Homo sapiens: one gene and its partners. The protein of the gene in region 1 purifies or fractionates together with the protein of each later gene. This does not show direct contact. Each region holds a gene or a part of one and is shown on either strand. Other genes may lie near its edges.

Region 1 (7,038 bases):
CTGACCCTGACACCCGTCAGCCTCAGCAACTTACTTGGGCTGTACTGCCACAAGGCTTCGAGGACAGCCCCCATTACTTCAGTCAAGCCCAAATTTCTTCCTCATCCATTACCTATCTCGGCATAATTCTTCATGAAAACACATGTGCTCTCCCTGCTGATTGTGTCTGGCTCATCTCCCAAACCCCAACCCCTTCTACAAAACAACTCCTTTTCTTCCTAGGTATGGTTAAGTACTTCCGCCTTTGGATACTAAGTTTTACCATCCTGACTAAACCATTATATAAACTCACAAAAGCAAAGCTAGCTGACCCCAAAGATCCTAAATCCTTTAGCCACTCCTCTTGCCATTCCTTAAAAACAGCCCTAGAAACTGCTCCCACACTAGCTCTCCCTAACTCATCCCAACCCTTTTCATTACACACAGCCGAAGTGCAGGGCTGCGCAGTCAAAATTCTTACACAAGAGCCAGGACCACGCCCTGTAGCCTTTCTGTTCAAACAACTTGACCTTACTGTTTTAGGCTGGCCCCCACCCCCATGACTGTATCTCTCTGATCCACCTGACATCCACTCCATTTCCCCATATTTCCTTCTTTCCTGTTCCTTACCCTGATCACACTTGGTTTATTGATGGCAGTTCCACCAGGCCTAATCACCACTCACCAGCAAAGGCAGGCTATGCTGTAGTATCTTCCACATCTATCACTGAGGCTACTGCTCTGCCCCGCTCCACTACCTCTCAGCAAGCTGAACTCATTGCCTTAACTCAGGCCCTCACTCTTGCAAAGGGACTACGTGTCAATATTTATACTGACTCTAAATATGCCTTCCATATTCTGCACCACCATGCGGTTATATGGGCTGAAGGAGGTTTCCTCACTACACAAGGGTTCTCCATCTTAATGCCTCTTTAATAAAAACTCCTCTCAAGGCCACTTTACTTCCAAAGGAAGCTGAAGCCATTCACTGCAAGGGCCACCAAAAGGCATCAGATCCCACTGCTCAGGACAATGCCTATGCTGATAAGGTAGCTAAAAAAGCAGCGAGCATTCCAACTTCTATCCCTCACAGCCAGTTTTTTTCTTCCTCATCTGTCACTCCCATCTACTCCCCCATTGAAACTTCCACCTATCAATCTCTTCCCACACAAGGCAAATAATTCTTGGACCAAGGAAAATATCTCCTCCAGCCTCACAGGCCCATTCTATTCTGTCATCATTTCATAAACTCTTCCATGTAAGTTACAAGCCACTAACCCACCTCTTAAAACCTCACTTTTCCTTTCCGTCGTAAAAATCTATCCTCAAAAAATAACTGCTCAGTGTTCCATCTGCTACTCCACTCCTCCTCAGGGATTGCTCAGGCCCCCTCCCTTCCCTACACATCAAGCTCGGGGATTTGCCCCCGCCCAGGACTGGCAGATTGACTTTACTCACATACCCGGAGTCAGGAAACTAAAATACCTCTTGGTCTGGGTAGACACTTTCACTGGATGGGTAGAGGCCTTTCCCACAGGGTCTGAGAAGGCCACCGTGGTCATTTCTTCCCTTCTGTCAGACATAATTCCTCAGTTTGGCCTTTCCATCTCTATACAATCCGATAACAGACCGGCCTTTATTAGTCAAATCACCCAAGCAGTTTCTCAGGCTCTTGGTATTCAGTAAAACCTTCATACCCCTCACCATCCTCAATCTTCAGGAAAGGTAGAACAGACTAATGGTCTTTTAAAAACACACCTCACCAAGCTCAGCCTCCAACTTAAAAAGGAGGACTCTGTCAAGGATAGAGCCCAAAAACTCACCAACCAAGCAAGTAATTACACTGAACCCCCTTAGGCACTCTCTAATTAGATGTCCTGGGTCCTCCCAATTCTTAGTCCTTTAACACCTGTTTTTCTCCTTCTCTTATTCAGACCTTGTGTCTTCCATTTAGTTTCTCATTTCACACAAAACCATATCCAGGCCATCACCAATCATTCTATATGACAAATGCTGCTTCTAACAACCCCACAATATCACCCCTTACCATAAAATATTCCTTCAGCTTCATCTCTCCCACTGTAGGTTCCCACGCCGCCCCTAATCCCGCTCGAAGCAGCCCTGAGAAACATCGCCCATTATCTCTCCATACCACCCCCAAAAACTTTCGCCACCCCAACACTTTACCACTATTTCGTTTTCTTTTTCTTATTAATATAAGAAGACAGGAATGTCAGGCCTCTGGGCCCAGGCCTGCACGTATACATCTAGATGACCTGAAGTAACTGAAGAAAGACAAAAGAAGTGAAAATGGCCGGTTCCTGCCTTAACTGATGACGTTACCTTGTGAAATTCCTTCTCCTGGCTCAGAAGCTCCCCCACTGAGCACCTTGTGACCCCCCACCGCTGCCCGCCAGAGAACAACCCCCTTTGACTGTAATTTTCCACTACCTACCCAAATCCTATAAAACGTCCCCACCCCATCTCCCTTCACTGACTCTCTTTTCGGACTCAGCCTGCCTGCACCCAGGTGATTAAAAAGCTTTCTTGCTCACACAAAGCCTGTTTAGTGGTCTCTTCACACGGACGCACATGACATTAAATATATGCAATACTTCAGCCCAATGTCCTAACCTGTTAAAATTGTTTTTACTTTGCTTTTCCTATCTAATATGTTGGGCACTATTTATAGATATTTTGGCCAAGCAACCAGTTGATTTCTAGGACATTCTCTATTTCAAGTATGCCATCTGGTTAGCCTCCGAACAGAAACCATGATGTTGCTTCCCCTAATTGCAATTTTATCAACCAGCTTCGTTTATCAGACTTTCTTCCCCAGAGGTGATAAAAATAAAAAAACCTTTTTTTTCCAATTTATGTTTTCCTCCTTTTGGCTTGAAAATATGTGTACCATCTCAATTGATAAATTAATAAGTCACATGGTAGGAATTTTCCATGTCAGAGTTGCAAATGGTTTTGTTAAATTAACTGAGGAAACGTGGTTAGCCTGACATCTCTCAAGATCTATGCAGGAAGATGGACCACAAGAGAAGGAAATCTGTAAATATAATGAATTCATATGTGTTGAGAGGCAGGAGGCTTTAAAACACCATTAAATCCATTAAAAAAACAAAAGGTGGAGTGAGCACTGTGAAATGTGTGTGACCCAAGGGTCGAGTTCTGGTTCAGCTCATCAGCTGTGTTGCCCCCGGAGCACCTTCACTTCTACCCTCCTTCCAGGAGCCTTAGGGGTTTTGTTTGTAAAATTAGGAAAATCCTTGGTGAAACCAAGGACAAATCTGTAGTGATAACTACAGATCATCCCTAACTTATGAATCTCATTTGGGCAGTTAGGCCAGGAGACAGCCCTACTCTAGGTTTAGGAGGCATGTGGCTACTGGGTGTTCCCTGAGGAACGGGGACCACGTACTCAGTGAAAAGCCACGCCCTTAGCAGCTCAAAACACCACCTGAAACAGCCATATTTTTATCAGTCTGTAAAGGCCATTTGATCCGATTAAATCACATGTGAACTCACTGCAATTTAACAAGAAAGCAAGTACACAGATGAGCCATCCAGGGTGCTCTCCCAGGTGTGGACAGCAGCTGTGACAGCCCAGAGCCACAGCACGAGCTTGCCTGTTCCCTGGGTAAGTGCAGCAAATCCTTCCAGCAACAGGGCTGGGTACAGAATGGAGCATGTTTGCATCGAGTCCTGCCTCCTGGCAGCCTTCAAAAACTCTCCCAGAAAAAAATAATATGAACGTTAAAATTAAATCACCAGTACACGTGAACCTGGCACACACCATGGAGAAGGTGTGCTGTCGCAAAGAGGAGACAGGAAAATAGCCACCTTGTAACCAACCTTCCCAATCTTCCACAGGGAAATCCTAGCCCAGCACCCAATACAGGGCCAGGCACAGAGCCAGCACCCAGTACTGCGGAAAACTGGCCGTAAGGGATTTGCTTTTAGTAACATCTTGTCATTAACATCCTGACATGCTAAATGAGGTGGAATGTCATGGCAATTTTCTGGATAATTCCATTGAAATTACCTTTATGTGTGAAACGACAGAGTTTTATTTCCCTACCCCTGGTAGAGTCATTTCACTAGATAGGGACACAACCAAGGAATGACCTTACAGTTTTGCTACAACATCACTGTACCTATAACTATAACAATATCACTGTCCTATAACTATTACAACGTCACTGTACCTATAACTGTAACAATATCACTGTCCTATAACTATATCACTGTCCTATAACTATAACAATATCACTGTACCTATATCACTGTAACTACATCACTGTCCTATAACTATAACAATATCACTGTCCTATAACTATAACAATATCACTGTACCTTTAACTATAACTATACCACGGTAACTATAAGAATATCACTGTCCTATAACTATAACAGTATCACTGTCCTATATCACTGTACCTATAACTCTAACAGTATCACTGTACTAGTTTCCTATAACTATAACAATATCACTGTCCTACAACTATAACAGTATCACTGTACTAGTTTCCTATAACTATAACAATATCACTGTCCTATATCACTGTACCTATAACTCTAACAGTATCACTGTACTAGTTTCCTATAACTATAACAATATCACTGTACCTATAACTATAACAGTATCACCGTACTAGTTTCCTATAACTATAACAATATCACTGTCCTATATCACTGTCCTATAACTATAACAGTATCACTGTACTAGTTTCCTATAACTATAACAATATCACTGTCCTATATCACTGTACCTATAACTCTAACAGTATCACTGTACTAGTTTCCTATAACTATAACAATATCACTGTCCTATAACTATAACAGTATCACTGTACTAGTTTCCTATAACTATAACAGTATCACTGTCCTATATCACTGTACCTATAACTCTAACAGTATCACTGTACTAGTTTCCTATAACTATAACAGTATCACTGTCCTATGTCACTGTACCTATAACTCTAACAGTATCACTGTACTAGTTTCCTATAACAGTATCACTGTCCTATATCACTGTACCTATAACAGTATCACTGTACTAGTTTCCTATAACTATAACAATATCACTGTACCTATAACTCTAACAGTATCACTGTACTAGTTTCCTATAACTATAACAATATCACTGTCCTATATCACTGTACCTATAACTCTAACAGTATCACTGTACTAGTTTCCTATAACTATAACAATATCACTGTCCTATATCACTGTCCTATAACTATAACAGTATCACTGTACTAGTTTTCTATAACTATAACAGTATCACTGTCCTATATCACTCTACCTATAACTCTAACAGTATCACTGTACTAGTTTCCTATAACTATAACAGTATCACTGTCCTATGTCACTGTACCTATAACTCTAACAGTATCACTGTACTAGTTTCCTATAACAGTATCACTGTCCTATATCACTGTACCTGTAACAGTATCACTGTACTAGTTTCCTATAACTATAACAATATCACTGTACCTATAACTCTAACAGTATCACTGTACTAGTTTCCTATAACTATAACAATATCACTGTCCTATATCACTGTCCTATAACTCTAACAGTATCACTGTACTAGTTTCCTATAACTATAACAGTATCACTGTCCTATATCACTGTCCTATAACTCTAACAGTATCACTGTACTAGTTTCCTATAACTGCTGCTCTAGGGGCATAACCACAAACTTAGTGGTTAAAAACAACACAAATTAATTATCTTACTGTTCTAGAGATTGGGTCTTACTGGGCTAAAATCAAGACATCAGCAGGGCTTCTTCCTCCAGGACGCTCCACAGGGAAACTCTTTCCTCGCCCTTTTCAACTTCTAGAGGCCGCCTGCATTCCTTGGCTCACGGACCTTCATCTTCAAAGCCAGCAGTGTAATACCTTCAAACCTCTCTCTCTGGCTCTGAGCCTTCCGCCTCTCTCTTTTTCTTATGAGCCTTGTGAGCACTCAACCCTGTGAGTACATTGGGCCCATTCAGAAAATCCAGAGTAAACTCCCCATCTCGAAGCCCGTAACTGCATGCCATTGACAGAAACGCTTTTGCCAGCTATGGGAACACACGCACAGGTCCCAGGGCTCAGCACAGGGACGTCTCTGGGGGCTCCTATTCCACCTACCACAATCACAAAGTGAAGTAGTCCTACAATTACCAATTTCTGAAAGGGCACAGGGCTTCAGTGAGAATCCAGATTCCACGTTACTCAGCACCTTTATAGCGGTAGGTGTTCCTCCGGGACTGTACTTTAATAGGCAATTGTTCCTGAATGGGAAGAAAAGAGGTTACTTTGCTTTCTGCACTTTGAGGGGCAGGGAGCAGTGCAGGTAACAGTTAGTATTAAAATGCACAGTGGAAAAACAATGACCCTGATAATGAGTGGGTTAGGGGTCTGCATTATTAACCTAATGGACATCCTTCCCCTCGCAAAGGGGTAAAGGAAAAGTTAGGGTGAGAATGAGGCAGGAGACTCCGTGACACTAAACCCTCATTCTATAAGCAAGGCCTATGTGTGGGGCAAACGGAACTTCAGGAAAAATGACACCAAAATTCGCTTCAGGAAAGCGAAAAATGACACAGACTTCAGAAAATGACTTCAGAAAAAATGACACCAAAATTTTGCTTCAGGAAAAAATGACACCAAAATTGAGTAGAGCATGGAGCGATAGACAGTAGAGACTGGGAAGGTGACAGAGAGGTGGGAAGGGGGCGGGCGTTGAAAAATAGCTTAGTGGGTACAATGTACATGACTCCAGTGATGGATATACCAAAAGCCCAGACTTTACCACTGTAAAATACATCAAAGTAACAAAATTACACTTGTACCCCATACATCTATGCAAATAAAAATAAGATTTAAAAATAAGGAAAAAAATCACAAGTTAATATCAAATTGTGATTAGCTCTATGAATGAAATAAACAGAGCTGAGTGTGACTTAAAAGAGAATGCTCAGAAATGGGCTTTTGGAGGGGACGGTATTTGAGGAAAGACCTGCAAGAATCAGCTTTGGAGAAGTAGGGGAAG
Region 2 (3,864 bases), on another chromosome or scaffold:
GAAAGCCAAAGATATAGAAAAGATCTTGAAAGCAGTCTGGGAAAAAAAAAAACAGCAATTACATACAAAGGAATAGTGACGAGTATATGCCTACCTTTCTTCAGAAACTATGGAAGCCAGAAGACATTGGAAGACAGTCAAATGCCAAAGGAAAAACCTATCAACCAAGCATTCTACATCCAGTAAAGCTGTCCTTCAAAAATGAAGGCAGCCTGTAATCCCAGCACTTTGGGAGGCCAAGGCGGGCAGATCATGAGGTCAGGAGATCGAGACCATCCTGGCTAACACAGTGAAACCCTGTCTCTACTAAAAATACAAAAAAATTAGCCGGGCATGGTGGCAGGCGCCTGTAGTCCCAGCTACTCGGGAGGCTGATGCAGGAAAATGGCGTGAACCCGGGAGGCAGAGCTTGCAGTGAGCCAAGACTGCACCACTGCACTCCAGCCTGGGCGACACAGCGAGACTCCGTCTCAAAAAAAAAAAAAAAAAAAAGGCAACATAAAGACAATTTTTTAAAATTTTATTATTTTTTAAATAGTTGTGGGTACATAGTAGGTGCATATATTTATGGGGTACATGAGATATTTTGATACAGGCATGCAATGTGAAATAAGCACATCACAGAGAATGGGGTATCCATCCCCTCAGGCATTTACTCTTTTCAATTACATTCTTTATTTTAAAATATACAATTGTTATTATTGACTATAGTCACCCTATTGTGCTATCAAATAGTAGATCTTATTCATTTTTTTTTCTTTTGGTACCCATAAATGATCCCCAATTCCCCCAAAAAACATTTTTAAATGAACCAAAACTGAGAATTCTACTCGAAGACCTAGATCATGGCTTGCTGCCTCAGTGCTGAGCAGCTTGGCTTCAGCCACCATGAACGGTTCCTTTCCTTGCTCCAGGACACCAAACTCGTTGCCGCAGATGCTGCAAATCCTTGTGGTGTTGAAATGACCCAGTATCCTGTGCTAAGAAGGGGAACAATGCCCCACTCTGCCTGTGATCCACTATAGTTGCACCACAGCAGAATTTCTAGGGCACCAAAGTGTTACCTGCAGCCTTTTGCTCCCCAGGGGGATCATACACTGTAGGGTGGTCTGGCCAGGGAAGTGCACCTAGCTGTACCATACTTTACTGGGAACTACAAACCCCCTTCAGATATCTGTCCTTGTTCAATTCAATTTGTAATGCCTGGTTCCCTCTTCCTTTGGATGTATTCTCTCTCAGGGCCCCACAATTCTCTCTTGCAAATTGCCCTCTCTTGCAAATTGCAAATTGCCCCTCTCTTGCAAATTGCAATTCCCTCTTGCAAATTGCAAATTCTATCTTGCAAATTCTCCTGCCCTTAAATTCTGGTTCTGTTTGGCAGAGAATGTTAAAACTTCAGTTATGGACATGGTATACGCTCTTATCTCAGGAGGCTTCTCAGCATCTGAGGCAGATACTGCTGGCTACCTCAAATTTTCTTTTAACCTTAACAGAACCCAAATTTTTAGCTGGACACATTACCACTTGTATTAGTTTGTTTTCTGTTACCTATAACAGAATACCTGAAACTGGGTAACTGACAAAGGAATTTATTACAGTTATGGAGGCTGAAAAGTCCCAGGTTGAGTCCATATCTGGTGGGAGCCTTCTTGCTGGTGGGGACCTTTGTGGCACCCTGAGGTGGCAAATATTCATATCGACCCCCAGGAAACTGATTTAACAGGGAGCAGCAGTTCTCTTTTCCCCCAGTCCTTCGTCCTGCTGCTTAGACTATGGATGTGATGGCTGGATTCCAGCAGCCACACTGAAACAGAAGGATGAGCTGGAAGGATCCCCGGTCTCTCATAATTTCATGGAACTGTCACACCAGTCCTAGAACACCTACTTCCCAAAGTATTTTATATAAAATAAACTTATCTTGCATACCCACTGTCTTAGTCAATTTGTCTGCTATAACAAAATGACTTAGACTGCTTAATTTATAAACAATAGATTTATTGTTCACAGTTCTAGAGGCTGAGAAGTCCAAGATCAAGACGCCGGCAGATTTGCTGTCTGGTGAGGGGCTCCTTGCTCACAGATGGTGCCTTCTCATTGCATCCTTACATGGCAGAAGGGCAAGAGGAACGAACAAGCTTCCTCAGGCCTCTTTTATAAGAGCACTAATCCCATTCACGAGGGATCTGCCCTCATAACCTAATCACCTCCCAAAGGCCCTATCTCTTAATACCAACATGTGAATTTTAGACACAAACATTCAGACCACAGCACACATAGCCCACAGCAACCATGTAATGAGGGAAACTTAGGAGAAGCAGGGTTGTGGGGGGAAGGGGATTTCATTGTAGAAGTTGGTATTGAACTCGCCAGTTTTTTTTTTTGTTTAAGAGATAGGATCTCACTCTGTTGTCCTGGCTGGAATGCAGTAGTGTGATCACAGCTCACTGCAGCCTCAAACTCCTGGGCTCAAGTGATTATCCCACCTCAGCCTTCTGAGTAGCTGGGATTACAGGCACACACCTCCGTACCTGGCTAATTTTTAAACTTTTTTTTTAAAGATGGGGTTCTATTTTGCCCAGGCTGGTCTTGAACTCCTGACTTCAAGCAATCCTCCTGCCTCTTCCTTTCAAAGCGCTAGGATTTACAGGTGTGGGCCACTGCACTTGGTCCCAATCTTTCTAGTTTTACTGGTAATTCAGCCCCCCACCCCCAGAACCCACTATAGAGAAGTGGGGCTGACTGAGGGAAGGAATGGGCTTAGCCAGTTCTACTCTCAGGAATAGAAGGAAAGCAAGAAGCCCAGCACTAACCTGGCCTGGGAAAGTGATGGAGGCTTCAGCCCCAGCAAGACAGAGTGTGGAGTCTCACCTGTGGCACCACTGCTTTTTCTAAGCATGCTCTGAAGTCTCTAACCTTCTCAATATAACAGAGCAGGTAATGTTTTGGACACAATTTGGAAAGCATATTCCTGTGGGGAGGGGATTATTTTTGTTTTGTGTGGTTTTTGGCTAAGAAGGAAGTTATTATCAGGAGCAATTTCCAATTATATACTTCACTGCTTCTGGCCTATATCCAAGATCTCTATTTAGCCAGTCAATGATGACGGGTGTTCTGGCAGAGATCCAGGACCAGCCAGTAACAGAACTACTTGGATCAACATCTATAATATTGTTCCAAATTGCAAGCAAAGTTAATTCCCCTATTCCTCTGAGGTTAGGGGAAGAACTTGTACATTTGTGTGTGTGCTGCATTCTGTGGAGATGGACAAATCTGAGCACTGCTCTCCACCCACTGCTGAGCCTGTATGACCTATCCAGGTAGCACATAGCACAATGGCCGAGAGCAGACTCTGGAGGCAGATTGCCAGGCTCAGGCCACCCCTGACAGTTTGCCGGCTGCCCTTTTGCAAGTTCCTCTACCTTGGGTGTCCGTTTCCTCCTCCAACATGAGAGTCACAATAGTAAGTTTCTCCTAGGGATGCTGAGAAGGCTACATGAAGCAATGTACAGAAGGGACAAGTATCACTATCAGCTCCCTCCAGCAGAATCCTGGGATTTAAGCAGGACCCAGTCTTGCATCTGAATGTCCAGTCAGCAATCTCTCTCTTCCATTCTCCTCCGAGGCAAACCATCTTGGCCCTTAGGCATCTTCTGCCTTATACTGACAGGTGTGTATCCTGGATAACAACCAGGACTGCATCCCCCTAAGGGTAAGGACTAGGTCTGATACTCATCTAGTGGACACTCAAATATTTTGCCAGTTCTATTATTAAGAATTTTATTTTTGAGCATTCTATATACATTTATAAGTGTACATATGATGTATTTTATGTACATGGATTAGGAAGTTCTTCAAGGGCACCAT
Region 3 (7,038 bases), on another chromosome or scaffold:
CATTGCCACTTTAAACTGCTCAAAACTGGAGGGAGCTGTCATAATTTTTCCTAAATACATAAACTGCAAAATGAGATCAAAACATTCTGCACTAATTTTCATGTTGCTGAGATTCAGTTGTGCAGTACTATGCTGATGGTTCATGAAAAACATTCTAAAATAGGAGCTACAGGCAGCTAGAACTGCCTTGTGTGCTTGAAAGTAAATGTCATCAATTGCAATACAGCAGTCACAGAGAAAACCCCATTCTCTTTGGTTGTTTAGCTGCTGAAGGACATAGCTGCTGTGGCTGGGCTTTGCCATCTTCTGTTAATTAGAGACCTATGTAAAACAAAAATATTAAAGTCAAACAAGATATAGAAAAGCACTTGACAAAATTAACTTTTATCATGATTTGTGACTTGCATGACTGCTATTACAATCAAGAAATTAAGAGCTTTCCATTCTAATAAAACTCAATAATATATACTTGAATCATTTTTTAAATTTGAAGATGAAGACATCCAGCCATTTATTCAGGCTTTTCATATTGAACAAAGGCATCAAAAGCAAAAGACAGTTTTAGTTTCATTACAACTCTTGGGGGGAACATGTACACTAAATTTGAACAGAAAAAAAGACATTAATTTAAAAATACTTGAAGGAGGCCGAGTGCAGTGGCTCACGCCTGTAATCCTAACACTTTGGGAGACCGAGGCAGGAGGATTGCTTGAGCTCGGGAGTTTGAGACCAGCCTGGGCAATAGTGTGAGACCTCTTCTCTACAAAAAAGTTTAAAAAATTAACCAGGTGTGGTGGCATCACCTGTAGTCCCAGTTACTTGGGAGGCTAAAGTGGGTGGATCACTTGAGCCCGACAGGTAGAGGCTGTAGTGAGTTGCGTCACGCCACTGCACTCCAGTCTGGATGACAGAGCAAGACTCTGTCTCAAAAGAAAAAAAAAAAAAGAAAACAACTCTTGAAGGATATGAGTAATGAAAGTAAATAAAACAGCAACTTAAACTGAAAGTTAACAATTAGATTGTAAAGTATGAAAAACTTATTAAATGATTAATACTAAGGAGCTATTGCTCATTTTTTAAGTGTGAGAAAGGTATTTTGATTGTGTTAAAAAGAATCCTTATCTTTTGGATATATATACTTTAGTATTTACAGATGAAATGATACATCTGAGATATGCTTAAAAATAAATGGGGTGGGTGTGGGGAGCAATAGATGATACAAGATTGGCCATGTGTTGTTAAAATAATCTATTTTAAAAACCCTATTAAGCCTGGGCAACATAGCAAGATCTCGCCTTAAAAACAAAACAAAACAAAACAAAAAAACATTAGCCAGGCATGATGATGCACCTGCAGTCCCAACTACTCGGGAGACTGATGCAGGAGGATGGCTTGAGCCCAGGATTTTGAGGTTGTGGTGAGCCATGATCACGCCACTGTACTCTAGCTTGTGTGACAGAGTGAGACTCTATCCCAAAAATAAAAATTTAAAAAAACCTTATTAGGGCTGGGTGTGGTGGCTCACACCTGTAATCCCAGCACTTTGGGAGGCCGAGGCGGGCGGATCACGAGGTCAGGAGATCGAAACCATCCTGGCTAACACAGTGAAACCTTGTCTCTACTAAAAATACAAAAAAAATTAGCCAGGCGTGGTGGTGGGCGCCTGTATTCCCAGCTACTCAGGAGGCTGAGGCGGGAGACTGGCATGAACCTGGGAGGCGGAGCTTGCAGTGAGCCGAGATCGCACCACTGCACTCCAGCCTGGGCGACAGAGCGAGACTCCGTTTCAAAACAACAACAACAACAACAACAACAACAACCTTATTAGATTATATAGAAATGGCACCAAACAAGTTTGATCAGTGCCTTTGTCTTTTCTTGAATTATCAAAGAAGCAATAATTCTATAGAGTTAGAATGTGTCTCATGTTGCTCAACATGCATTTCAGGGTATAAAGAAGCAGTGGGTTTATTTGAGAAGGTATTTTATTTATCCTTAGAGTGTAAAGTTTTCTTCCTTTTTTTTTTTTTGAGGCAGGGTCTCGCTCTGTTACCTAGGCTGGAGTGCAGTGGCATGATCATAGCTAACTGCAGCCTCAATCTCCCATGCTCAAGCAATCCTCCCGCCACAGCATCCAGAGTAGCTGGGACTGTAGGCACATGCCACCACATTCAGTTTTTTTTTGTTTTTTTTTTTTTAATATTTTAGTAAAGACAAGGTCTTGCTATGTTGTCCAGGCTGGTCTTGAACTCCTGAGTTCAAGCGATCCTCCTGCCTCGGGCTTCCAAAGTGCTGGGATTGTGGGTGTGAGCCACTGCACCTGGCCTCTTCTATTTTTTTTTTTTTTTAATTGTTAAAAGAAAAAAGTAAGGCTGAGCGCGGTGGCTCATGCCTGTAATCCCAGCACTTTGGAAGGGTGAGGCTGAGGTCAGGAGTTCGAGACCAGCCTGGCCAACACGGTGAAAACCTGTCTCTACTAAAAATAAAAAAAGTTAGCCAGTCGTGATAGCGGGCGCCTGTAATCCCAGCTACTCGGGAGGCTGAGGCGGGAGAATCGCTTGAACCCAGAAGGCGGAGGTTGCAGGGAGCAGAGATTGTGCCACTACACTCCAGCCTGGGTGACAAGAACGAGACTCCATCTCAAAAAAAAAAAAAAAAGTAGCAAAAAATTCAAACATAGAGGCATATAGAATAAAAACACACCTCAGATCACACACCTCTTTTCAGAGGTAACCCCTCCAAACACTCTGGATTATATACCTTCAGATTTGTTGAGATGCACATGTACATAGTTAGCATATTGAGTACCTATGAGATGCCAGGCACATAGTTTTGCTTTTGTTGTGTTTTTTAACCTAAATGGTATCATACTATATATATATATATATATATATATATATATACCTCTCTGCAACTAGTTTTCTTCATTTAACATTAGACAATATTAGTGGGCATTTAAGTATTTTTAGTGTAGGGAGCTGACTTTGGATAAGGAAGAAAGGAGAGGAAGTATTAAAAGCACTAGAAATCCTATCATATTATAAAGTTAAAATAAGATCAAATTTTAGCCTCAATTTTTAATCCGTATACATAAAGCTTCAGAATCTATCTTCTACTTAAAAATAAGTTCCTATGCAATTTGACTGAACTTAAAAAGAACATGTAACAAGCTGTTTAGAGAAATAAAATGTTCACTCTTCAAGCTCTGTAGTAGTAATTAAGGGTATCTACGTTTACGTACTTCTATTTGCTTTTTATCCATTCCTCAGCGATCACATATGGGTCATACGCCCCTTTTACTACCTATATGCCCATCCTGCCACCTCTAAGACATAAAGTTCCATAGCCAGAGATACAGGACTGGTGAAATGAAGATGGCTTATGATGAAACCTGCTGCCTTCTTAAAATTGCAACCACTGCACCTTTTCTGGAAGCCAGATCAAGTTTCAAGTAAGTACAATATTTCAAACCTCTGTAACTCAGGTATCTGTAAAAAGCTGTGAGGAATCATGTTCAGTATGTATCTAAATACAAAAAGCAATGTATGCACAAAGATAGTCATTAATGAGTTACTTCTCATTTGAATGCCTAGTAAAAAAAGGAGTCTTAAGGTAAATCTACGCCCCAGAATTCACTGTCATGTGGCAGTGAATTAAAAATTGTATTTCTGGGCCAGGCGCAGTGGCTCATGCCTGTAATCCCAGCACTTTGGGAGGCCAAGGTGGGCGGATTACCTGAGGTCAGGAGTTCAAGATCAGCCTGGCCAACATGGTGAAACCCCATCTCTACTAAAAAATATATAAAAATTAGCCGGGCGTGGTGGCACATGCCTGTAAACCCAGCTACTCGGGAGGCTGAGGCAAGAGAATTGCTTGCGCCTGGGAGAGGGAGGTTGCAGTGAGCCGAGATCATGCCACTGTACTCCAGCCTGGCTGAGGGAGGTTGCAGTGAGTCGAGATCATGCCACTGTACTCCAGCCTGGCTGACAGAGCAAGACTGTCTCAAAAAAAAAAAAAAAAAAAAAATATATATATATATATATATATATATTTCTAAATGGCAACTACAGAAGTGGGAAAAATGTTCAAGATGGAGAGCCAAATAAATAAACACAGGATACATAATTATGTTAGAATTATATAAAACAAATCCACGCCACAACCTTATTCAAAAGGTGGGGGGAAAAAAGATGAAAAAAATACACAAAAATGTTGACCCAAGCCCGTTTTAAGTAGGATGAAATTTCTATGTCTATAGTCATTTTTCTAGGATTCAGAGAGACATTTAATAAATAATAAACTATAGAGTAAGAGGCAGAGGGATAGGTATTATTTCTAAAAAACCAAACTTTCTATTAATAAGAGTAATTCAAGAATGAAACAAACTTGTTTGGAGAATGAGTACCCATATTAAAGCAGGAACAGAATGCTATTGAGGACAGTATAATAAGTGAAAAGAGCATGGGCCTAGGATCAGACAGACCTGGCTTCTTATCTAGCTTTGCCACTTTTGGGAACTTGCTTATCCTCATTGACCCTAAGTTTCCTGAACTGAAAAGGTAGGGATAATACCTCAAATACAGTATCATATATGAGGATTCACAGAGGCAATGTGTAAAATGCATCGTGCTTGGCATGTAATAATGAAAGTAATAGTGGATGTTGTAATGGTGGTGATGCTTATTTAAGCATCAGGTAAGTTTGAGTTGATAACCTTAAAATTTCCTTCCAAATAACAGTCCATTAGAAAGCCAGTAGTTAATCTATAAAAACTTTCAAGTATTAAATAGTCCAGGCTTGAAATAATGATATAAAGAGCACAGAAGTTCCAAAGACCCTTTCTTATCTAGATGAGCAGCAGTTTTATCATCAGCAACCAAAATTAATACAACTACATAGAAGATCAATATGATAGGCACATCTATAGCTATAGTCACAATTCAACTGAGTAAAAATACATATTCTTTTATTAACATAAAACACTAAAACATTTAAATAAGAGCACTTATAGCATTTTAATGCACATTTATTCATTCAACAAACATTTACTGACTACCTTTGGTATACCAGGCACTGTATAAAGTGTTGATCATCAGCAGTAGCACAAGTATTCTGTATTCATTTGAGGAATTTTTACTTTTCCTAGATCAGTGATTTCATTCAACACGTATTCTGCAAAGCGCCCACTCTACAGAAGAAGGCATCATGCTGTAGTAGAAAGAACAAGTGCTCTCAGTCAGACGGATCACAGTGTGAATCCCACTGCATCCATGTTTATACTCCTATATTCCCCCTATAGAGCTGGAAGCTGAACAAATGGAAGCTGAACAAATGCTGTGTCTAATTTTTAATCCTAACACAACAGTTTTTAGGCTGACCTAGAATTGTAGTTTAAGTAACATTATTATGCAAATGTCCAAGTTCTGAGTAAAACTGATTTTAGGCACAGTAACTTATAATAGCAATCATTGACACATTAGTACCAGAAACTCTGTCCTTGTTACACCTCATTCAGAAAAGCTTTTTTCTTAAATTTTAATTATTATTTTTTTGAGACAGGGTCTTACTCTGTTACCCAGGCTGGCATGCCATCATAGCTCAGAATGTCCTCAATAGCATTCTGTTCCTGCTTTAATATGGGTACTCATTCTCCAAGCAATCCTTCCACCTCACACCTTCTGAATAGCTAGCACTACAGGCATACGCCACCATGACTGGCTAATTTTTGTATATTTTTTGTAGTGATGAGGTCTTGCTATGTTGCCCAGGCTGGTCTCGAATTCCTGGGCTCAAGCAATCCTCCCACCTCAGCCTCCCAAAGTGCTGAGATTACAGGTATAAACCACTGTGCCTAGCCCAGAAAAGCTTTAAGAAGGATTACTACACCAAAAACAGGTAGAGGAGTATGCGGCAGGGGAGGAGGGATCTAAATTCCTGTGAGACTTTTAGCTTATCTCTTGAAGATAATTTTTTCATTAAAAATTTTTGAGGCCGGGCACCGTGGCTCACGCCTGTAATCCCAGCACTTTGGGAGGCGGAGGCGGGTGGATCACAAGGTCAGGAAATCGAGCCATCCTGGCTAACACAGTGAAACCCTGTCTCTACTAAAAATACAAAAAATTAGCCGGGCGTGGTGGCAGGCACCTGTATTCCCAGCTACTTGGGAGGCTGAGGCGGGAGAATGGCGGGAACTCGGGAGGCGGAGCTTACAGTGAGCCAAGACTGTGCCACTGCACTCCAGCCTGGGCGACAGAGCAAGACTCCATCTCAAAAAAAAAAAAAAAAAATTATGAGGCATTCACTTTCATTAAATTATAATTTCACTCAAATTCCAAGAGGAGTTTGCTCTTTTTTCATTTTTTTGACCTCTTTATTAATGCTGCCAAAAAAAGTTAATGAACTTTATGTTCTAGTAAAGCCTATAAAAGGTTTTAAGTAAATGGACAGCTTGTATTTCAGCTGTTCTTGTTTTTACGACTGAAATCTGTGATTGCTTTTGTTTGTACTACTAGCTGCATCACTGGTAGGACAAGTTTAGCACAACTAGAAGTCAAGGGCTCAGGTCTGAGAGCAGAACCTCCAATGTGACTCAAAGGACTTAATGTCATTTGGATAAGGAAAACAAGCTATATAATGCCAAGAGTTACACTAAGGCTAGAAGGATACCCACTGTGCAGAACTCTAGCAAGAATTAAGGAGTTAGGTGATCCAAAAAGTTTTATACTGGATTTTTAAAATTTTAGTCTGAAAAAGTTTAACGGCTCATCTCAAGTTTAAAAACAGTCACCAAGCACATTAAGCATATTAAGTAATTTAATCATACATTTTTAGAGCTTAGAGAGATCTAATCTAGTCTAACATTCTTATTCCATAGAAGGCAAAGATACATGGTTTTTAATGTATCAGGGTATAGTTAACTGTGCTGAAGCACATACTAGGACTAAGGACTCCTGACCACCCAGATAGTAATAACCTCTATATATGGCACTTCCTTGGTACTATACAGTATGGTCTTCCGGAAAGAACACTAAACAAGGA
Region 4 (7,038 bases), on another chromosome or scaffold:
TTTTAATCAGATTGCATTTTTTGCAGGGTTTTTTTTGTTTTGTTTTTTTCTGGGTTATTTATTTATTTATTTATTTATTTATTTGGCTGTTAAGATGTTTGAGTTTCTTGTATATCCTAGATATTAATCCCCCGTCAGATGAACAGTTTGCAAATATTTTCTCCCATTCTATAGGCTGCCTTTCATTCTGTTGGTTATTTCCTTTGCTGTATAAAAGCTTTTTAGTTTACTATAATCCACTTGTTTATTTTTGCTTTTTTTGCCTGTGCTTTTGAGGTCTTATTTATAAAATTTTTTCCCAGACCAATGTCCTGAAACATTTCCCCTATGTTTTCTTCTAGCAGTTCCATAGTTTCCTGTCTTACATGTAGGTCTTTGATTCATTTTGAGTTAATTTTTGTACAGAATAAGAGGTGGGGCTCTAGTTTCATTCTTCTGCATATGGATATCCTTTTTCCCAGAAACATTTCTTGAAGATACTGTCCTTTCATCAGCAAATGTTCCTGGGACCTTTCTCAAAACTCAGTTGGCTGTAGATATGAGGATTAATTTCTGGGTTCTCGATTCTGTTCCTTTGGTCTATGTGTCTGTTTTTACACCAGTACCATGCTGTTTTGGTTACTATCACTCTGTAGTATATTTTAAAGTCTGATAGTATGATGTCTCCAGCTTTGTCCTTTTTGTTCAGGATTGCTTTGGCTATTCCAGGTCCTTTATGGTTCCATACAAATTTTAACTTTTTTTTCCCTATTTCTGTGAAGAATGTCATTGGTATAGAATGTCATTGATAGGACTGCATTGAATCTGTAGATTGCTTTGGGTAGTGCCCACTTGCAGTTTAATCCAAACGTAACTTCTACAATGTGGATGTTAATTTTATGAAAGCATAATTTTTAAAGTTTAGACTATAATCAAAATGTTCTGTATAGACTCTTAGGTGAAAGTGAAGAGGGGGGCACCACCGTGTAAATGTTCCTTCATCTTTTTACATCTGAAAATAGTATTTTTACTCTATTCAGTTTCTTCTTTTTTTTTTTTTTTTTTTTTTTTTTGAGATGGAGTCTCACTGTGTGGCCAGGCTGGAGTACAGTGGCACAGTCTTGGCTCACTACAATCTCTGCCTCAGGGGTTCAAGTGATTCTCCTGCCTCACTCCCGAGTAGCTGGGATTACAGGCACACACCACCATGCCTGCCTAATTTTCATATTTTTAGTAGAGGTGGGGTTTCACCATGTTGGCCAGGATGGTCTCAATCTCCTGACTTCGTGATCTGCCCGCCTCAGCCTCCCAAAGTGCTGGGATTACAGGCGTGAGCCCCTGTGCCTGGCTCAGTTTCTTATTTATAAGATATCCAACAGTTCTTAACCATTAATTAGACTTTAAAGATTATTAATTTCAAGTGCACATTAATGTGTTTTTTAAAAGAACAAGAAATAATTAAAAGAAACATTTCATTTTTACTTAGCATTCAAATTGCACTTAATCTCTTTCACTCATAGAGTGGATTTTTATTAACATTTACAGCATCAGGCAGACACATTTAGCCATGATCCTGAAATCGTGAAGTACTATACAAAGAAATAAAGCTATTTATTATAGTAATATCCACTCATTTTCTGATGCCCTGAACCCAAAAGTGAAAATATGTGCCTTTAGACCCTCACTTCAAATCTAACTGGATGTAATATCACAAATAATTCTTAGCAAGTTTATGTGGTTCCCAAGGATATAGTAGATTAGAAGGGCAGGGCAGGAAGAGGAAGGGCAAGTGGGTAAAACCTGAAAAGCATATACGTTATGGAAACATACTATCATGTCACAGTAACAGATATTCAGAATAGAATGTAGAAATATAATTGCTGGCCAGGCACGGTGGCTCACATCTGTAATCCCAGCACTTTGGGAGGCTAAGGCAGGTAGATCACTTGAGGTCAGGAGTCCAAAACCAGCCTGGCCAACATGGTAAAACTCTGTCTCTACTAAAAATACAAAAAAAAAAAAAAAATTAGCCAGGCATGGTGGCAGGCGCCTGTAATCCCAGCTACTCGGGAGGCTGAGGCAGGAGAATCACTTGAACCCGGGAGGCAGAGGTTGCAGCAAGCTGAGATCGCACCACTGCATTCCAGCCTGGGCGACAGAGTGAGTCCGTCTCAAAAAAAAAAAAATGTGTATCAAAAAAATGGCTTGACATAAAAACAGTTTTGGTGCTTGTACTTGTTATCTACTTAAAAAATAAAATATAAAAGCACCTTATTCCTTGAAACATAAATGAAGCATGAATGTGTCAATATTCAACTTGACTGAATAATGTTTTCACAGTAGTGCTAGAATATATGCTTCAAGACAAGAAAGATTGAACTGTCTTAATCACTATTGTATCCTTCACTTAGCACAGGGCCTTGGTACATAGTAGGTGTTGAATACTGAATACATTATTTCATTTCTCACATTAACCCATCAAGGTAAACACACTTACCCCCATTTAAAGGTAAGGAAACTGTGGTAAAATGTGCTTATCTTGAAAGTGGGAGAAGAGGCATAACTTTTGACTCCTAACAGTGTTATTTTGATCACCAGAATCAACATTAACAGCATTTTCAGAATTTTTTTACCTATAATTTCAAATTTTTAGTTTTTAGATATCAAATTTCATTAGTCTAAAATTATCCTCACACAAACAACACCCAACTAAAACAATATACAAAATTTAATGCTATAAAACATCTCAAACACACATCGTTATAAATATCATCCTATTACCAGAAAAACATACCTTTTAAAAACTAATCAACTTCACTCCATCTACCCTAAACTATCCTTTTAGTAATAATAGCCAAGTTCTGGTTTACCTAAATGTTTCTTAAGGTACTATATAAATTTTACACCACCCAATTTTTTTATTAAACACCTTCTATCCAATTACTTCATTAACAGATGCTATGACAAAAGGGCACAAAAGAAGTAAAGAACATAACCATATATCTCAAGAACTTTAAAATCTACTTTGAATAAGACATGTATACACGAAACTGTGGCAAGTTGCTCCCAAAGCAACATACAAAGAGGAAGGAACCAAAAATAACTGAGTATCTCATCTGAAAATGCTAGGCATTTTCATATGCGTTACCTCTATTAGTTCTGAAAACTTTGTAAAGTAGATATTGCCATCTTCATTTCGGAGAAGAAAACTGAAATTCAGAGAGGTGAAATGACTTCCCAAAATAAAGGGCAAATGAGGGTCTGAAGTCCAAGTCTATCTGACTCCAAAGTTCTATCCTTTTTAAGCTACACCATGCAGCCTCCCACATATAGATTACAGGGTATAGACAACATTTATAAACGTTGTAAGGAAAACAAAGAAAGACATCATTGAAGAGAATAATTCCTAGGAAATATTTTATTGACAAAGTCAGTCCTGAGCTGTGTCTGAAACCTAAGTGTAAGATTGCTAATAACAGAAAGATTAATGTCACAAAAATTTCTAAATAAAAAATCTAAATATTTTCCTTCTTTGATCATTATTCTATTTCTTATTCTCTTGCATTTTTATGTATAACCTACCCTCCCCTATAATCATTCCCATTATAAAGACAGAAAAAAATTAACTAGGTCTAATATCCTATATTTCTCTTTCCTGCTGGTCAGAATGCTAAAAGATAGAAACATATACTGCCATGAGAGCCTTGAAGTGATCTTAGAGAGTGATTTCTTCATTTTAGTGGTAAGAAAAGCTGAGAGAGGGTTACACAATATACTGAAGGTTACAAAACTTTACTAGCCAGAATAGTATGAGAACATAGTTCTTACAGTGTTCTTTCTATGATTCAGTGCTCCTTAAATTTTTTGCCATGAAGTGTCAATAACGCAGAAGAATGACGAGATCTGGAGCTCACTTGAAATATAATGGGCTCACTTGAAATTTCTTTGAAGTTTCTAATTTCATCTTAAAGCCTCATATGAATTCTATACTTTGTGCCTAATTTACTTATGCTTATCTTAATATTAAAGTTATTTAAATTAATACCATCAAGTAAAATTGGTACTTAAAAAATTATTATGTTTGTTCCTGTGGCTTAGATTCTAAGCCTTATAGGTATCCCTTGACACAATGTCATGTACTCCAGTTTGAGAAGAATGCCCCAAATTATGGTGACAATTCCTTCATCATATTTCATTTCCTTGCTGCTTTATTTTTCAAATTAAGAATTCTTTTTAAAGCATGGTAAATTTAATTACACTCTTTCGAAATGTATAAATACTGACAAAGCTACTGTTAAAATTGTTGGGGTTGTTTAAACACAAAATTTTCAAGAAGCTCTACTTAGTTAAAATTAATTTATTAAAAACAATTTAGTTTATAAATTCATTAAAGAACCTGGATAGAACTTCTACCTAGCAATACTTCATTAAACATTTCCTTTTTGAGAGGTCACTCAAAAAAACTTTTTAATGAAAGTGAGATTAGATGCCATTCATATTGACTACAGTCCCAATTACTTTTAAGTAGGTTAAACAATCTTTTCTTCTTCCTTGGTATTTATCTTCTCTGCCCAGATGTGAAGGAAGAAATCCTTTGTGGTTTCACTACTTTCTTTTTCAGGATCTTTTTTTAATACCTTTCAAATTCCAAATATGCTTCATTATTCTTCAATCCTATTTACAGAAACAGAGTAATAGATTTTATCTATTTTACTGATTGTTTTTAAAAACACCCTGTTCAACTTAGCCAGGAATCTATCACTAGCAAGATTAAAAATAGACTCTTATTCGTCACTTCCTCCCTAAAAACATACTATTGACTTTCCACTATATGCCTGCTTGAAGTCAAATAGTTGTATGTGTTTTTAATGTATTTAAAACTCTTATTGTATAGCAACTAATACTTTTTCAAGTCCTTGGCCAGTGATGATAGTATTAAGTATATTCACTTTGAAGTCAAATTGTCACATGTGTTTTTAATATAGTTAAAATTCTTATTGTATAGCAACTAATACTTTTTCAAGTCTTTGACCAATGATAATAGTACTAAGTATATTCATTAGAAATTAATTTAACATTTTCCTACTTTGCCTAAACATTTAATTCTCTAATACATTGCTTTCAACAAAAAATTCACAAAATAACAATCTATTTCAAGAAATAGGATTCCTTTCAAGTCATATAGATCAATATTAAAAACACATATTAAAAAAACAGCTAAGTTAGGCAGAACATACAGTTCCACTTAGTAGGATTTAATAGTAATTTGCCTACTTAATGACATCTATTCTCAAAACAGATATAATATGTATATATCCTTATCAATAAATGGGCTTTTCAGAAAATAATATTGACACATAATATACCAGAACAGGTTTCAAGAATGTAAAAAAGTAAATGCTTAAACAATTGCAGAGTTATGACAGTAGCATCTGCTTGGCTCAAGCTTGTTTTTTTAATACTTTGAATGACTTCATTTATGAATAACTGAAATACTCCCTACCTGTTACTGTAATATTTTGATGTTCTCATTTACAATTAGTCTTTTAACTAATCTCTAGTACCTAGTCTTATATTTGTTCCAGTATCTCTTACTGATTTCAAATCAACAGGTTAGTGCAATTAAAATGTATATTACTACAGCAAAAATATGATTTTTAAAAATGCCCTTTCCCAAAAATTTGTACCTTTTTCTCATTCATGCCCCTATTAGTGACAATTTAGGTAATGGATTATCATCTTCAGCTAAGTACCTTGGTATCAAACATTAGCTGTAGCGAACTAATACGATATTCAGTAGCCAATGGAATAATCTATATGATTCTACATTCTATACATACATGTAGTCATTATTTTCCTAGTAATGTTTCTGTAGAGCTTTTACAGGTAAAACTAGTATGCTGCTTTGATAAACAGCTTCTTTCAAAATAGAAAAAAGTATGTGAAGAGTGACATATTCCAGATATAGTGAGCCTGCTATGTAACTGGTAAGATTGACTTCAAGTATAATCACTACTAAAGCTGTTAGAAAAAAATTCTACATCTGCACCACATCCTGTTTCTAGTTTTCAAGTAGCAGATACTTGTTTATTTGCTTCATGTTACTCATTACCATATTACCTCTAGTCTCTTCTATAAATAGTAATACAAGTAGACAACTAATTAGACACAGAAATATTTCAAACTAGACCTTAGGTCACCAAACACCATGTGACTTTCATTTCTGTCAAGTCAACATAAGACAGTTTCGAACAAAGTTATTGTTGTTAGAGATGGACAATAATATTCAACATAAAATGTTTCCACATACAGCCTATTTTATATACATATATGTTCTCATTTTCCTGATTTAAAAAAAAGTATAATTAGAATATCCATGTTACATTAATTATCATAATCTCATTTTCAAGTGCTTAATAATTCAAAATAATGAAGCAAAAAAATGCTTCTGCTAAATATTTCCCTTTCTACCATTATTCTTTCATAAACCTAATACAATTAATTTATTTAATGAGAAGTCTCAACAGACTATGTACTAAATTTGCCAAATTTACAACTGAAATGAAGATAACGAAAACATCTAATGGATGAAAAGTTTCAAAGAACAAATATCTTTCAACAGGTAATAAAAAATGTCACAACGTCAATTAAAAACTTTAGAAATGACAATATGACTTCACAAAATACTAAGTAACATATTGTAAAATGTGTGTGTGGGTAGATCACACTTTCCACTATCTTTGTAAAATAGATATAGATAAAATACTTAAAATTAGTATTACGAAGCATGCCAAGGAGATTTTCTAAAAGAGACCCTCCACCTTTTAAGAGCCACAAATAATAATTTACAAAAACCACAGTTCAACTCAACTTTCTTAAGTATGAAATCACAATACTTCAGTTCAGTAAAGAATAATTCTACATAGTAAAACTGCAAAACCTCAAGTTCTAGAATACACAAAATTGTACAGCACAGCTTCATTTTTGTAAGTTCTTTCCCCCAAATCATATGGTATATCAGGCAAGACCACAGAAATTAAGCTGTTGATAATGAAACCC

The links.
Region 2: the proteins of KLKB1 (region 1) and NCAPH purify together in Homo sapiens (affinity purification with mass spectrometry; 2 studies listed by BioGRID and IntAct, with this or other methods). This does not show direct contact.
Region 3: the proteins of KLKB1 (region 1) and ZBTB1 purify together in Homo sapiens (affinity purification with mass spectrometry; 2 studies listed by BioGRID and IntAct, with this or other methods). This does not show direct contact.
Region 4: the proteins of KLKB1 (region 1) and GPHN purify together in Homo sapiens (affinity purification with mass spectrometry; 2 studies listed by BioGRID and IntAct, with this or other methods). This does not show direct contact.

The regions. Positions count from the first base shown.
Region 1 is NC_000004.12:186,237,495-186,244,532, reverse strand, and holds part of KLKB1 (plasma kallikrein isoform 1 preproprotein), read right to left. Parts: intron 6,278-7,038; coding exon 6,168-6,277; coding exon of another isoform or gene 6,135-6,167; intron 6,129-6,134; exon of another isoform or gene 5,488-6,128; intron 5,369-5,487; exon of another isoform or gene 4,039-5,368; intron 1-4,038. UniProt on the Homo sapiens protein: Participates in the surface-dependent activation of blood coagulation. Activates, in a reciprocal reaction, coagulation factor XII/F12 after binding to negatively charged surfaces.
Region 2 is NC_000002.12:96,373,731-96,377,594, reverse strand, and holds the end of NCAPH (condensin complex subunit 2), read right to left. Parts: 3' UTR 504-3,864; downstream 1-503. UniProt on the Homo sapiens protein: Regulatory subunit of the condensin complex, a complex required for conversion of interphase chromatin into mitotic-like condense chromosomes.
Region 3 is NC_000014.9:64,514,770-64,521,807, reverse strand, and holds part of ZBTB1 (zinc finger and BTB domain-containing protein 1), read right to left. Parts: intron 5,209-7,038; exon of another isoform or gene 5,057-5,208; intron 3,452-5,056; exon of another isoform or gene 3,270-3,451; intron 322-3,269; 5' UTR 304-321; coding exon 1-303.
Region 4 is NC_000014.9:66,511,141-66,518,178, reverse strand, and holds part of GPHN (gephyrin), read right to left. Parts: intron 1-7,038. UniProt on the Homo sapiens protein: Microtubule-associated protein involved in membrane protein-cytoskeleton interactions. It is thought to anchor the inhibitory glycine receptor (GLYR) to subsynaptic microtubules.